Regions from separate parts of the Homo sapiens genome. Here regions 1 and 2 are each linked to region 3. The links come from fine-mapping of genetic effects on gene expression. A gene starts in region 3. Each other region holds a variant in brackets. All regions are shown on one strand. Distances are between the middles of the regions. Region 1 overlaps NUP54 (nucleoporin 54). Region 2 has its middle 100 kb from the start of LINC02562. Region 3 holds the start of NUP54 (nucleoporin 54).

Evidence for each region. PIP is the estimated chance that this variant, and not a neighbour inherited with it, causes the effect. A credible set is the group of variants that fine-mapping cannot tell apart.
Region 1: its variant is the best candidate, but not a certain one, in a credible set for the expression of NUP54 in monocytes after LPS (Quach 2016, PIP 0.53).
Region 2: its variant is the best candidate, but not a certain one, in a credible set for the expression of NUP54 in whole blood (Lepik 2017, PIP 0.65).

The regions. Positions count from the first base shown.
Region 1 is chr4:76,122,829-76,128,099 of GRCh38, reverse strand. NUP54 (nucleoporin 54) reads left to right here. Exons shown (of 12, transcript NM_017426.4): 9 at 3,344-3,451. Among named protein-coding and RNA genes, the nearest start is that of NUP54, 23 kb to the left of the region's middle. The variant C/T (reference allele first, on the strand shown) is at 2,469.
Region 2 is chr4:75,185,560-75,190,830 of GRCh38, reverse strand. No RefSeq gene overlaps it. Among named protein-coding and RNA genes, the nearest start is that of LINC02562, 100 kb to the right of the region's middle. The variant C/T (reference allele first, on the strand shown) is at 2,351.
Region 3 is chr4:76,145,507-76,150,777 of GRCh38, reverse strand. NUP54 (nucleoporin 54) reads left to right here and starts at 2,381. Exons shown (of 12, transcript NM_017426.4): 1 at 2,381-2,470. The coding sequence starts at 2,404. It overlaps LOC124900718 (a long non-coding RNA gene), which reads right to left and starts at 2,229. Exons shown (of 2, transcript XR_007058144.1): 1 at 2,176-2,229; 2 at 1-1,571. RefSeq lists an enhancer at 2,272-2,431.

The DNA of each region.
Region 1 (5,271 bases), 23 kb after region 3:
TGGAGCTCCCTTTCAGCATTTATGCTCATTTCCAGGTTTGAGGCTGGGTTGAAACCAGACTAGGGACGCCTGAGGGGAAAAATGGGTAAACTCACCACAAGTTTATTGGTACTTTAAATTCCTATCTTACCTGATCTTCCTGCCAGAGTTCCCAAATAGCTGCCCCGTGTATTCCATCCAAGTTTTATAGCTATATTAAATGGGAGAGATTGGGGTTGTATATGCTTAGTCCATCTTGTCCAGAACTGAAATCATTCATATCTTTGGCCAGTGTTTCCACTGGGCTTCCTATTTTTTCTTTATTGAACTTCAGTAATCATTTACTCTAGATTGTAGTCTCTGTTTATAACGTTGTAAATATCTTCTAGTTTCTCATCTCTTTGTTAATTCTGTCTTTGGTGTCTGTAGTTGAAGAGAAATCCTTAATTTTAATGTAATGATATCCATTAAATGTTTGCCTTGTATTTTCTTTTTGGGAATTTGCTTAAATAATTTTTCACCCCAAAGTCTGAGAGTATCCTACATTAAAAAAAATTTAGAGTTTAACCTTTCACGTTTGAGTCTTTTGTTGTCATCATGAAGTTTACCTTTATATAAAGTATGTGGTATGAACTCAGATTTATTTTTCTCTAAATAGTGGGTCCATTTTTTTTTTTTTTTTTTTTTTGAGATGGGGGTCTCGTTCTGTCGCCCAGGCTGGAGTGCAGTGGCGCAATCTCGGCTCACTGCAAGCTCCGCCTCCTGGGTTCACGCCATTGTTCTGCCTCAGCCTCCCAAGTAGCTAGGACTACAGGCGCCCACCACCACGCCTGGCTAATTTTTTGTATTTTTAGTAGAAATGGGGTTTCACCGTGTTAGCCAGGATGGTCTCGATCTCCTGACCTCGTGATCCACCCGTCTTGGCCTCCCAAAGTGCTGGGATTACAGGCGTGAGCCACTGCGCCCAGCCCTATATTTTTAATATTGCCTATAAAAATATGATATTCCTCAATGATTATCAAAGAATTTAAATTACACTGTTTGCATATATATATGTGATCTATTTCTAGACCCTCTCTTATGTTTCATTGGCCAGTTGGTCTGTTCTTATACCCACCCATTCCACATTTTTTTAGTCTTATGGCTTTGTAGTGTATCTTAATATCTAGTAGCATGAATCTCTAATCTTGGTTCTTCTTTTCAAAGTTTTCTGGGTCTTTATGGGTCTTTATTCTTCCATAAAAACTTTAGAATCAATTTGTCAGAATGCTAGAATTATGGTTGGAATTGCATTAAATGCAAAGACTAATTTGTGGGAATTGAATTTTAATATTAAATCATTTCATCCATGAATGTGGTATGTCTCTTTAATCCTTGCAGTCTTTTATGTCCTTTAAAATAATTTTAAAATATTCCCTTTTAAAATCTCATGCGTTCTTTCTTGGATCAATTCCTAGATGGCTTTCTTGGATCAATTCCTAGATGGTTTTAGTATTTGTTAATAAATACTGTGGCTGATAACATGTCTAATTTTTTTAGTTATTACTGGTAGAAAATAATGTTGTAAGTACTCTTGTATCTAAAAACCCTGGTGATTTTTCAAAATTGGGATGGGGAGATTGCCTAGGTTTTGTAATATAAAACATGGCCACCTAATTTTGTCCTTTCAGCATGGCCTGGCATTGGAAAGTTTCTGTAAAAGGTGATGTGTGCAGGTGGATGTGCTAAAATATGTCTTGCACAATCTTAACCTCTTTCTTGTAACATGTAAATGTAAGCCAGTGGCATAGAATGATTAATTATGATAGAGACAATTATGGGATTAATTCTGATTGGGATGCTTTAATAAAATAGTGAGATTTTAACCTACCCTGTAAGGTTAAGACTTCCTAAGGCAGAATAGTGGGATTTCAGTCAGGTAAAACAGCAAGTCAAAGATCCAGAGGCATAAAAATGTATCCTGCTGCATAATTAATATCATTCCTTTTCCTCTGCACTCTGATTACTCCCTCCAAGTATTCTGTAACAGTTAATGTTGAAATGTACTGTACTTGCTGTCAGTAGTTAGATACAGGGCTAATTGTCTATTAAGACACCCCCTAGATATCATCTTACACATCTTAACTTTTTCCACTCAGACCTGGTTGTTGGCTGTATTCCATGTTACTTCAGATTCCTTAATTATTTCTGAAGTATGTGTTTTCTTTTTTTCCTTTTGAGATAGGTCTCTCCCTCTCTCTCTGTCTCTCTCTCTCCCTCCCCCTCCCCCTCTCTCCCTCTCTCCCTCTCTCCCCCTTTCTCCCTCTTCTCCCTCTCTCTCCCTCTCCCTCTCTCCCCCTCTCTCCCTCTCTCCCCCTCTCCCCCTCTCCCCCTCTCTCCCTCTTCTCCCTCTCTCTCCCCCTCTCTCCCTCTTCTCCCTCTTCTCCCTCTCTCCCTCTCCCTCTCTCCCTCTCTCCCCCTCTCTCCCTCTCCCCCTCTCCCCCTCTCCC[C/T]CTCTCCCTCTCCCTCTTGCCCATGCTGGAGTGCAGTGGCATGATCACGGCTCACTGCAACCTCAAACTCCTGGGCTCAAGTGATCCTCCCACCTCAGCCTCCTAAGGAGCTGGGATTACAGGCATGTAGCACTACACCTGGTTAATTTTTTATATTTTTTGTAGAGACAAGGTCTTGCCATTTTGCCCAAGCTTGTCTCAAAATCCTGGTCTCAAGCACTCCTCTTGCCTTGGCCTCCCAAAGTGCTAGGATTACAGGAGTGACCCACTGTGCCCAGCCGTGTGTGTGTGTGTGTGTGTGTGTGTGTGTGTGTGATGGAGTCTCACTCTGTTTTTTGTTTTTTGTTTCTGTGAGATGGAGTTTCACTCTGTTGCCCAGGCTGGAGTGCAGTGGCACGATCTCGGCTCCATCCCCCAGGTTTAAGTGATTCTCCTGCATCAGCCTTCCAAGTAGCTGGGATTACAGGTGCATGCCACCACACCCAGCTACTTCTTTGTATTTTTAGTAGAGACGGGGTTTCACTATGTTGGCCAGGCTGGTCTTGAACTCCTGACCTTAAGTAATTTGCCTGCCTCGTCCTCCCAAAGTGGTGGGATTACAGGTGTGAGCCACCACGCCCAGCTTATTTTTTCTATGTATTGCCTCATTGCTAAATTTCCTAGAGCTCTAAAGATATCTTTGCATGATTCTTTTAAAAAAATTTTAGGTATGTAAAAAGGGAAGAAATATAAAGCACAGATTTATAGGGAAAGAGTTTATATTTTGAGAGATGAATCTCAGGCTTATCCCAAGATTAGAATTTCCATACAGGTGTAACTGATAAATAGTTGTGATATTTGATTAACCCTCCCCCCCCCAATTTTTTTTTAAACAGATCATATCTGAAGATATTAGTGAGCTACAAAAGAATCAAACTACATCTGTAGCCAAAATTGCACAATACAAGAGGAAACTCATGGATCTTTCCCATAGAACTTTACAGGTAGTAATTTGGATTTTCCCCCCCAGTGTTTATAAGACTATGTGTGTGAAATAATGTACTAAATATAGATTTTTAAAATAGAAAAAAAAATACTAAAATGAAAGAATAATGTGAAATTACAAGTACCGAATTCTTTCAGTAAAACTTTGAAATTGGAAAACAAGTCTCATAGGTTTGAGTGAGGAGAATAAAAATATCCTAAAGTTCGTATTTTAGTGACAGTTTGAGGGAAAGCAGTGAAGAAATAAAGCATCTTAGTGCAAGGGAAGCTTCTGTGAGATTATTGATGTCTCATAAATTTCATAAAATAGTTTCATAAAATAGTTCAGAAAATTTTTTGAGTGCTAGAAAAAGGAGTGTAACCATAATGGTCGAAAAACAATAGAATTTCCAAATTAACAGGAGGAATTAAAAGAATAATAACAACTGAAATTATAAACTATCATGAAAACAGAAATATTACATACCAGAACCAGTGGGAAACAGCAAAATCTGTACTCAGAGGAAAACTTACAGCCATAAAAAATTCTCATTTAAAAAAATCAAATGTGAAAAATAAAGGAACTTAGTACTCATGTTAAATTAGAAAAGGAATATCAAGATAAGCCAAAAGAAACTAAAAAGAAAGAAAGATAAATGTGAAATTAGTGAAAGACTAAAAAATGTAATAGTGGAAAGAATAAATTAAAAAACTGTTTCTTTGAAAAGACCGTTAAAATTACTAAGCATCTCATCAGCTGGAAGAAGGGAAAAACAGAGTAAAATATACAAAATTAGTAGTGGGAAAAGAGGCATCACCGTAGATATACAAAACAGAATAAGAAGATACTGCATGGGCCGGGCACAGTGTCTCACTCTTGTAATCCTAGAACTTTGGGAGGCCGAGGTGAGTGGATTGCCTGAGCTCAGGAGTTCAAGACCAGCCTGGGCAACACGGTGAAACCCCATCTCTACTAAAATACAAAAAAATCAGCCAGGCATGGTTGCTTGTGCCTGTAGTTCCAGTTACTTGGGAGGCTGAGGCACGAGAATTGCTTGAACCTGGGAGGCGGAGGTTGCAGTGAGCCGAGATCACGCCACTGCACTCCAGCCTAGGCTACAGAGCAAGACTCCATCTCAGAAAAAAGGAGAAAAAAAAAAGAAGATGCTGCATGTACTTTAGGGTAACAGATTTGGAACTCAGAGGAAGTTTTATTTTGATTTTTCTATGAAAATGAAAATTACCAAAATCTACAGAGAAGTAAGAAAACAAATACCACAGAAACAGTTGGAAAAATGAAAGATGAAACATGAAAAAGGCCTTAGGGACAGATAGTTTCATTGCCAAATTTTGTCTAACCACAAAAGAGCTAATCCAGTGTTATTTTGATTATTCTAGACAATTGAGGAATAATTTATACAGCTTCATTTGTTCTTTTTTCACAGCTTAAGATAATTTGCATACCATACTATTTACTCATTTAAAGTGTACAATTCAATGGCTTTTAGTATATTCAGAGACTTGTATAACCGTTATTACCACAATCAATTTTAGAACATTTCTGTCACCCTACAGACAAATCCCGTACCCATTGTCAGTCACTTCCCCGTTTCACTGCAAATCTGTCAGTCCTATGCAACCAGTTTTGCCTATATGGGTTTGCCTGTTCTGGAAACCTCATATAAATGGAATCATAACGATATATGGTCTTTTGTGACTGGCTTTTACTTAGCATAATGTTTTCAAAGTTCAACTGTGTTGTACCATGTAATAGTACTTCAGGTACTAATAAATGATTATTATTCATTTATTGCTGAATATTCCATCATATGGCTATACC
Region 2 (5,271 bases), 960 kb after region 3:
AGACACTGGAGAAAACAAAGAGCAGAGTTTGTGGCAAGTGTGGAAAGGGGATGTGGTGAATTTTCTTTGGGGCAGGAATAGACTTCATGGGCCTAGATAACTATGTTACTCCTCTTCTTTCAGCAGTGCATAGACCTTTAGTTTTAAGGGTTATGAGAGTTTGGGAGCCTTCCTTGAGGAAGTAAGCAATGACCCCAGCCGAAAATCTAAGACAAGGAACATGTTGCAATCAGATATTGATTTTGAAGGATTATGGCATTATCTGTTCTTATCATAAATAGGTAAAACAAAATCCTCACTGATATTTGTGGGAGTTGAGATGGGACAAAAACTCTCACCCGGGGTCTTCTTTCAATTTTTCTCTAGCACAGGAACGTTCTTAAATGCAGAGTCATGTTAAGTTTCCCTTTCACTCTTTTCTCCTAAAAATCATTTTAGTTTCACAGCCATTTTCCTGTATCCCTAGTATTTTGCAAGATCGGTATGTCCTAAGTAGACTTTAAGTTTGAAAAGGCAGTTGTTTATAATGCTGGAAATAAATTTGCACTTTGAAATTAGAAACCCTGGTGTGCTGATTGTGACAAACCATTGATGATCTCCAGCAGAGGCTCTGCAGAGCCCATTACTGCACAGCCTGGAGCAGGAGGAGCCTTTGCGTGGCAAGGGAAGGAGCTTTGCACCAGTAGCCTCTGTCTATGGGAGGTGTTCCTGTCTAAAGGCCAGAGAGTTAGGATCCTTGAGAGAGTCTGAGTGTAAAATAGAGATTATACTTAATGTAACTTTGAAATTCTTAAATACTCTATAAGAATCCAACTCCCATTCAGAATATTTGAAATGATCCCTTTCTCTCTGAATCTGGATGTTGGAATGCTTCCCAGATAAATTTGTTGCCTATTTTGGGTTTGATGTTCTCTCTTGCTATCACTGCCAGAAGTGTTTTCGGGGCTCAGATTCTGAGGTTTCACTCCCGTGATGCCTGGATTGTAAGACAGTGGGATTTTCTGCTCACAGGGCTTGGTAATGTTAGGGAGATTTTTTTTCTCCGGGTTTTTGGTAGGAAAAATGCAGTGAAATTGTACTGCTGCTGCCTGCCCTTAATCCATAAAAGCAATCAACTCATTTTTTGTGTGTGGCCATTTTGACAAAGCTACTGTAACCCATGGGAAATTCTGGTTTGGCCTAAAATGAAACCATGAAATGTTTAGACATTTTTTTTTCTCCATTCCTCAATCCTATTCAAATCCTAGGTCTTTTACCTATTCACTTTATCCTGTCACCTCCATAGGCTATCATGGAAAAAATTTGCATACAGTATTGGTTAATATTTTTAAAATTTATTTTTTTGACTTGCCTAGTTGTGTAGGAGCAATATATCTGTATTAAATGTTCTATTTCCATTTTTGTTCCAGATTGCAGTCTCTCCCAGGTTTGTGCAGGGAAAGCTAGCTGCCTTTTTAAAGAACTGTCAGCAAAGCCAGAGTCTGTCTGAGATGCTCAGCAAGAGCTGGAATTTCATAGCTTCCCACATGAGACCAGACCCTCAGAGAAGGTGGAGCAATGTCAGGAGCAAGAAGTAGACAAAGAAATTTTGACTTTGGAGAGATCAAGAAAGCTGTTCATCAGTGTTGGTGATGGGAACTTGGGGGTTGACAAGAGGAGTTTAGACTATTTCTTTTCTTCATCCTCATCATTCCTATGGATTTTGTTAAAAATGGTGTGTAATTTGAGAAATAAAGCATTCCTTGTTTCCTCATTTGATGAGCCACCTCTGATTCCTGGACAGAAAAGGGACCACAAAAAGTGAACCATCCGTAGACCACATTTATGTTCTGGATTTGCTTTTGAAAGATAATCACACAGTATTGTGAACCTTCCCTTGCTGCTTTGGGGAAGAATCAGAGAGGAAAGAGTTGAGAGATCTCTACTTTCTTCAGGTGGTGATAGCTCTCAAAAGGGTGGAGGCTGAGCAATATATAGTGTGATGTTTTCACCCTAAAAAGTTAGGGTTTAGTTTAGTTTTCCTGCCCCCCCCTTGATTGTTCTTCAAATTAAGTCAGTAAGTGAGTATAGACAAATAAGCAAAAGTGTCTTGATTTTCATGGAAAGAAAATTTTATTATTTTAACTATTTTACAATGAAAAGTTCAAGTTAACTCTCCTTGTACTGTTCATCCTGATTCTCCTCTTTCCAGATTTTCAGTGTAAGGAGTATAGGCTTGAGCCTTTTATCACTAGTCATGGAAAACAATCCTCCCTCAGGGACATCATTGCTATGGGAGGGAGAATGTGTGACAGAGAAGAGCTTCTATGTCCAGACTAAATCCCATCTGGGACATATCCAGGCCTCACCC[C/T]GACCCTTGGACAGAGAAATGGGCATTTAATAGAGCTCATATATGGAAGAATGAAAGGACTAATGTAAGTTCAAAATCAATGAAAGTAGATCAAAATTCAGCAGGAGTTCAACCTAAGTCCTCTCTTTTGCTTACAACTTTTAAAATGAGCTTTTCCTCATTATGAAGAGTGGACATAAAGTAGCCTCTTGCCTTTATGGCTCACAGACAGAATCCATAATCAGATTATACTATCAAATTGTAAAATAGTAATTTTTAATCAGTTTTTACAATATATCTGTCCATGAGATTTTAATCTTTTCGCCTTCCCCTTCCAACACATCATTAAAATGAGACCATTGAGATTCCTCTATCCTTGTAGAAATACCAGCTTGGGTCAGTTTTAATCATAGACCGATGGTATATTTACAGAGAAACAACAAGGTCAAGAATCAACTGTGTTCTAGTTCCAGAACCTGGATTTTCTTTCTTTCTTTTTTAGATTTTAATTTTGTGGGTATATTGTAGGTGTATTGAACCTGGATTTTCATGGTGAGACTTTTCTTTTTAAAAAATAACACATTATTATTTATGAAACTAAAGAACTAAAAAGCATGCTCAACAACAACAACCACACAAAATTGGAAAAAGAAAACAGAAGGACACAACAAAAAATCTCTCCAGGGAAATTTTTGTAGGATGGCTTATTTTGAACATAGTGCCGTGTTACAGCTCCTAGATACCCGCAGGAAGTGCAGGGCAGTTTGGAGGCAGATTCAGTGGTAGGAGGGAGGAATTCCGTTCTTCTTGATTCTTTTTTTAAAATTTCAATAATTTTTTTAGGGAATAGATGGTGTTTGGTTACATGAGTAAGTTCTTTAGTGAGGATTTCTGAGGTTTTGGTGCACCCATCCCCCAAGCGGTGTACACTGTACCCAATGTGTAGTCTTTTATCCCTCACCCACCTCACACCCTTTCCCTCAAGTCCGCAAAGTCCATTGTATCATCCTTACGCCTTTGCATCCTCAAAGCTTAGCTCCCACTTATGAATGATAACATACGATGTGTGATTTTCCATTCCTGAATTTCTTCACTTAGAATAATGGTCTTCGATTTCATCCAGGTTGCTGTGAATGCCATTATTTCATTCTTTTTATATATATATGTGTGTATATATATATACACACATATCTGTGTGTATATATATATACACACAGATATGTGTATATATATATACACACAGATATGTATATATATATACACACACGGATATGTATATATATATACACACACGGATATGTATATATATATACACACGGATATGTATATATATATACACACGGATATGTATATATATATACACATAGATATGTATATATATATACACATAGATATGTATATATATATATACACATAGATATGTATATATATATATACACATAGATATGTATATATATATATACACATAGATATGTATATATATCACAATTTTCTTATCTACTTGTTGATTTATGGACATTTGGGCTGGTTCTATATTTTTTGCAATTGTGAATTGTGCTGCTATAAACATGCATGTGCAAGTGTCTTTTCATATAATGACTTCTTTTCCTCTAGGTAGATACCCAGTAGTGGACTGCTGGATCAAATGGTAGTTCTACTTTTAGTTCTTTAAGGAATCTCCACAGTGTTTTGCATAGTGACTGTAGCAGTTTACATTCCCACCAGCAGTGTAATAGTGTTCCCATTTTTACCACATCCATGCCAACATTTATTATCTTTTGATTTGTTTATTATGGCCATTCTTTTTTTTTTTTTTTTTTGAGACTGAGTTTCGCTCTGTCGCCCAGGCTGGAGTGCAATGGCACAATCTCGGCTCATGGCAAGCTCCGCCTCCCGGGTTCACGCCATTCTCCTGCCTCAGCCTCCCAAGTAGCTGGGACTACAGGTGCCCACCACCACACCCGGCTAATTTTTTGTATTTTTAGTAGAGATGGGGTTTCACCGTGTTAGCCAGGATGGTCTTGATCTCCTGACCTCGTGATCCACCTGCCTTGGCCTCCCAAAGTGCTGGGATTACAGGCATGAGCTACCTCGCCCGGTCCGATTATGGCCATTTTTGCAGGAGTAAGGTGGTATCACATTGTGGTTTTGATTGGCATTTCCCTTATAATTACTGATTAAGAGCATTTTTTCATATGTTTGGTGGCCATTTGTCTATCTTCTTTTGAGAATTGTCTATTCATGTCCTTAGCCCACTTTTTGATGGAATTGTTTGTTTTTTTCTTGCTGATTTGTTTGAGTTCCTTGTAAATTATTGTTATTAGTCCTTTGTCAGATTTATCAATCGCAAAATTTTTCTCCCACTTTGTGGGTTGTCTGTTTATTCTGCTGATTGTATTTTTTCTGTGCAGAAGCTTTTTAGCTTAGTTAAGTCTCATCTGTTTATCTTTGTTTTTATTGCATTTGCTTTTGGGTTCTTGGTCATGAAGTCTTTGCCTAAGCCAATGTCTAGAAGGGTTTTTATAATGTTATCTTCTGGAATTTTTATGGTTTCAGGTTTTAGATTTAAGTCTTTGGTCCATCTTGAATTGATTTTCATATAAGGTGGGAGATGAGGACCCAGTTTCCTTCTTCTACATGTGGCTTGCCAACTATCCCAGCACTATTTGTTGAATAGGGTATCCTTTTCCCAATTTTTGGTGGCTTTGTCAAAGATTAGTGGGCTGTAAATATTTGGCTTTATCGTTGGGTTCTCTATTTTGTTCCATTGGTTTATGTGTCTATTTTTATAACAGTGTCATGCTGTTTTGCTGACTATAGCCTTGTAGAATAAAGTCAGGTAATGTGATGCTTCAAGGTTTGTTCTCTTTGCTGAGTCTTGCTTTGGCTCTGTGGGCTCTTTCTTGGTTCCATATGAATTTTAGGATTGGTTTTTCTAGTTC
Region 3 (5,271 bases):
ACTACTATTTTTTTTTTTTTTACACTGACGGGGGGTGGGGGGGAGTCCCCACTGTGTTGCCCAGGCTGGCTGAACTCCTAGGCTCAAGCAATCCTCCCACATCAGCTTTCCGAGTAGATGGGACTATAGGCTGGTGCCACTGTGCCTGGCAAATACTATTTTAATCACTGTAGAGAAGAATCCTCCATTATTTTTCTAGAGTGGGGAAGAAGCATTCACTTGGCTGCACGAGGTCAGAAGAGGATTTGGGGAGCTCTAACTGCTTCTTAAATAGACTTTCAACCAGTTCCTCTCATTTTAACTTCCCTTTACCCCAACTTATGAAGATACGTGATATCTCCAATTCCTGAGCTTCTGGCAGATTCCATAAATTAATCATTGGTTTTCCTTTCTGCTAGACTGGGAGGGCTGTTTGTTTTTTTAAGGTAAGCTGAGTACTTAGCCATTAGACAATGTGCTAAATCAGGGGTGTCCAATCTTTTGGCTTCCCTGGGCCACGCTGGAAGAAGAAGAATGGTTGTTTGTTTTTTTAAGGTAAGCTAAGTACTTAAGCGTTAGGCTATGTGCTAAATCAGGGGTGTCCAATCTTTTGGCTTCCTTGGGCCACACTGGAAGAAGAAGAATTGTCTTGGGCCACACATAAAATACACTAACAATAGCTGATGAGCTTTAAAAAAAATCGCAAAAAACCTCACAATGTTTCAATAAAGTTTACGAATTTGTGTTGGGCTGCATTCAAAGCCATCCTAAGCCATGAGCCACATGTGGCCTGTGGGCCGCAGCTGGACAAACTGCTGGTAAATCAAAGCTCCTTAACATGCTAAGGAAGGTCTTTCAAGATCTGGTTTCCACCTATCTGTCATTCATTCATTATTTATTTCCCCCTGTTATATGCCAGGCACTTGTGATGGGCATGGAACAAGAGGGACATGGTTCTTGCACTTATGGAATATATACTATTGTAAGGAAAAATTAGATTGATAAATTATCTGTGACAAACAGTGAAAGAAGGCAGGGCAGTGGGTATGAGAGCATACTCAGTTTGTAGGAGTCAGACACGGGTCCACCATTCACCAACTTGCCCAAGCCAGAAAGCAGGAGGTTGTCCTTGAATCCTTACTTCCCACGTCCAAATACTACGAGTCTCATATATGCTATTTCTTAAGTATCTCTCAAATTTATTCTCCTAATTCCACTGCCAGATGTAATCCAAGTCATTATCATCTCCTACCTGTGCAACTACAACAGACTCCTAAAAGCTCTATCTTCCTCAGGCATTCTGGCTCCTTCCAATCCATTCTCCTTATGGCAGCCAGAGGGATCTTCTAAAAACAAAATTCTAGTCATACTAGTCCTCTGCCTAAAACCCCTTAAAGGTTTCCCATTACCCTCAAGAAATAGTCTGAAATCCTTACCATAATTTACAAGGCAATATAATATAATGGTAATTTTTACAAATTGGGACTCTGGAGTGGAGAAACATGAGTCCAAAACCAGACTCCAGAACCTACCTGCAAGGTGACTTTGGGCAAGCTGCTTAACAACTCCAAACCTCAATTCTCTCATCTCACCTGCAAAATACAGTTACAGAATCTTCTCTATTTATTTATTCTGAGGATTAAATTATATTACAAGTACAACAGAGGGGGCCCACTCTTCCCCTCTTTTTCAGTGCTCCCCTTAGAGCTGTGGTTAGGAGTATTTACTCTGTAAACAGCCTGACCCTTTGGTACCTGTTTCCTCTTTTATAAATTGGAGATAGCAGCAACCCACCTCATAAGATAGCTGATTAAATTATGTAAAATGTCTAGAAGAGTGCCTGGCACATAGTAAACGCAACGTGTTTGCTACAATTCCATTCGCTTTCATTTCTTCCAACGTGCATCCTCTTTACTGCTTCTGCTCCGTCTACTCATCCTTCAGCACTGGGTTCAAATACCACCTCCTCGTGGGTGTTGGGGGGGTTCTCAACCCCAGCCCTGCTGCCCGACCTCCCAGGCCCGCTAGTTGATGAGGCAGCAACTTCAACCCTACCACATACAAATTCTAGCTGTCTACCGCGTATCCCTACAGTAACAACTTCAGCCTCTGCACACCTTTCCCAAAGAACCTCCCTACGGCAGTTTTTAAAGGACTCTCAGGCGGCACACCCTCGCGAGCGTCCCAGCATTTTACCTTAACAGTGACACCCCACAGCATGTGAAGCCCACCGGAAGTGAGCTGGCTGGGGGCGTTCCCTCACAACCACCCACCTCCTACGCCCTTGGCGCCTTCCGGCCTCTTAGGCTAGGTCAGAAAGGAGGCGGAACTCGGTGATCTGACTGGCGGTTTCCCGGCCGGACTGAGAAGGGGAGCGCGCTGCGCGTCGCAGGAGTAACCTACTTGGTCTCCTGCTTTCGCGACATGGCCTTCAATTTTGGGGCTCCCTCGGGCACCTCCGGTACCGCTGCAGCCACCGCGGCCCCCGCGGGTGAGTGATCCCCCTAGACCTTCACCCGGGAAGAAGGGGAAGGGTCTGGTCCGCCCCCTCTGTCCGAGACTCTCCGACCTGGGGATCCTGGAATCTCCCGCCGACGCGGAGACTTTAGAGGCATTGGAAAAGGGCGGGCGGCGGCAGAGTGGGCCGAGGCGGCACCCGAGGAGGCCACGGGGGTACTCGGGGTCCCACTAGAAGCTCGCTTGCCGCGCGTGAGTTTCCACAGGGCCCTGGCTTGAGCGGTTCGCTTCCCGCTGCCGGGGAGTCCTACTCAGAGAAATTGGAGGTTGCTTCCCTCTCCCCTTGCCCGAGAACCTCCCTCCCCTCTGCACCTCAGCCTCCTGGATGGGCGGGAACGCTTGCGTGGTTCCCGCTGCCGGACTCGGCGAGGATAGGGCTGGGGATCCACCGGCACTGCCCATTGACTCCCTTAGTTCCACCCCCGGCCCCCTGTGGTCCTCGCTGTGGGGTTTATCCGTCATGCTTCTTCCATCTGCCCCACCCCACCCCCACTCTGCTTTCTTAAACTGTTTGGAGCAAAACCAGGTTTGTTCACTTCTGTGAAACCTCCTGCTGATTCTTCTAATCCTTATCTTGCTTTCTTTTCTTTTTCCCTCTCCCCCTTTTTAAAATTTTGTTTCTTTGCCTACACGCCTATCAGGATTTGGTGGGCTTGAGACTGCCAACTCCACCGCCAGTGGGTTTAATTTTGGGGGTTTCGGATTAACTGCTAATCCTGCAGTGAACTTTAATATTGGGAATTTCGGTGTTTCTACTACCTCGGCGACTCCGTTCAATTTTGGTAACAGTCTGGCAAGTGCAGGTAGATACTGCGGGTTGTATGTGTAACCAGTGTTGGGAGCTGGAGTCCAAGAATATTGTGGTTCCTGGAGTTTGGGAAAGAACAGTTACTTGTCTAATAGGGAAAGGAAATTTATTTCCTTATCTCGAATCAAAAACATCTGTATCAAGTTTTTACTGCCTTAAAAGATGTGGTTTAGGAAAGTTTTGCAAGTTACAGTGTTCCTTTATTAAATGTGCACTTATCTTCCAAATGATAAGCATTTGGATTATAATTTTGAATAGATCTTTAAAATTATTAGGTAGGACTTCCAAAGTATAAACTCACCACCAGTCAAGCCCATCCTGGGATTCTTGGACTCCTGCAGTCATTTTTCATTTTTTCTGCATCTTTCATTGAGATTTCATTTTATTGTCCTTGTGTTTCCAAAGAGAAACAAGTCTTATACGAACAGCAGTAACCTGTTTTGTTTTTTAACTTGTGTTATAATGATAATAATGTATTTCTTTGGTCAACTCAGCAGATTAGGATACTATAAGATGTGTAATTTCTATAAGATTTGTAATTATAGAAAGAATCCCCAGTTCTTTGCTGGAATTTTGGGAAATGCTCAAAGAGAGCAGTTTAGTTTTATGTGATATAGCATCGAATTCTAAAAGGTAAGCTAGACGTCTTTGCATTCAAAAAGATAATTATGAAGATTTTCATATGCACGTGGGTTGTTTGCAGCTCATTAGAAATTTTGCAAAACAATAATGATATATACATTTAAAATAGGTTTATGGGTACTTTACATAGTGACACTGTAGAAAAAAACTTGTTCTTCAGCTGCTCGTATATGAATTTATCGTCCATAGTCTCTTACGTTATGCCTCTTGTGCCCATGCCAATTATATGCATTTGATAAACATTATTTACTCCCTAAAAGTTAATTGGGAAGTTTGTTATTTTGTTCATTCACTGGTTACTGCAATGTGATTATCACCCTAGCATCTGAGTTGAAAACAGTTCGAAGAATATTTGAAAACTTCAAAGACAAGATGATGCATTTTAATTAAGATGTATTCGAAGTAATCACATATCACTGTCCTTTGATGTGTTTACTTTTCCTTGTTTGCTTAAAATTGGCACTGGGTAAAACAGAAATCTTACTTTGAAATTTGTGTTTCTGAATAAAGCCACCCAGCTCATAATTCAACAACAATAAATAAACTTGTTGGTATTTGCTTGATTTCATGTTCATTTGGAGTTATCACTGTTAAGTTTTGAGTTATGATAATGTAATATGTTTTAACTACTTTTATATGTGTTAACCTTCAGCAAAGGGCTGATAGACTTTCTTGTTTACTTTTTATTTTGTATACTTGCAGATCTGCTATTACTAAAACATTTTTGATGTTGTGGAGCATGATGAGAAACTGACTAGTGTTTCTATTGCGTAGCCAATTCAGATTATATCATAGTTATTCTATGGAAGTGAAGAATAATGAAAAGAAATTACAACAGTGCTTAGTACTGTGGGTGACTTTTATGAAAATGTTTATAGTTTGCAGTACTGCAGTAGAACCTACAAGTAAATAGAATATTTAGTTGTGCCTGCATGCAACATGCAGCTTACTCTTGAGTAGTTTTCCAAATCAGAATGAGGTGATTAATATAAAATGGTTGCATGTTTTTCTTCTTGTATTTTCTATATTGCAATATTGATGAATCTGTGTTGTATACCAGAAATAAATGAGATTAAAGGAAGATTCCAAAAAATCTGCAATATAATTCGACACTAATGGTTCAAACATTTGTCTTGAAAGGCTTTTTGATACCACATTGGTAATCAGCTGAAGACTGACAATAAGTTACAAAAATAACAAAACAATTTTAGATTGGCTAGCATTCCATTTATCTGTCAAATCTCTTCCTTCAAGAAACACATTCTTGTTGTTTGGAGGTAAGTATATTGGTATGCTTCCTTTGAAAAGTTACTTAGTCTTGACAG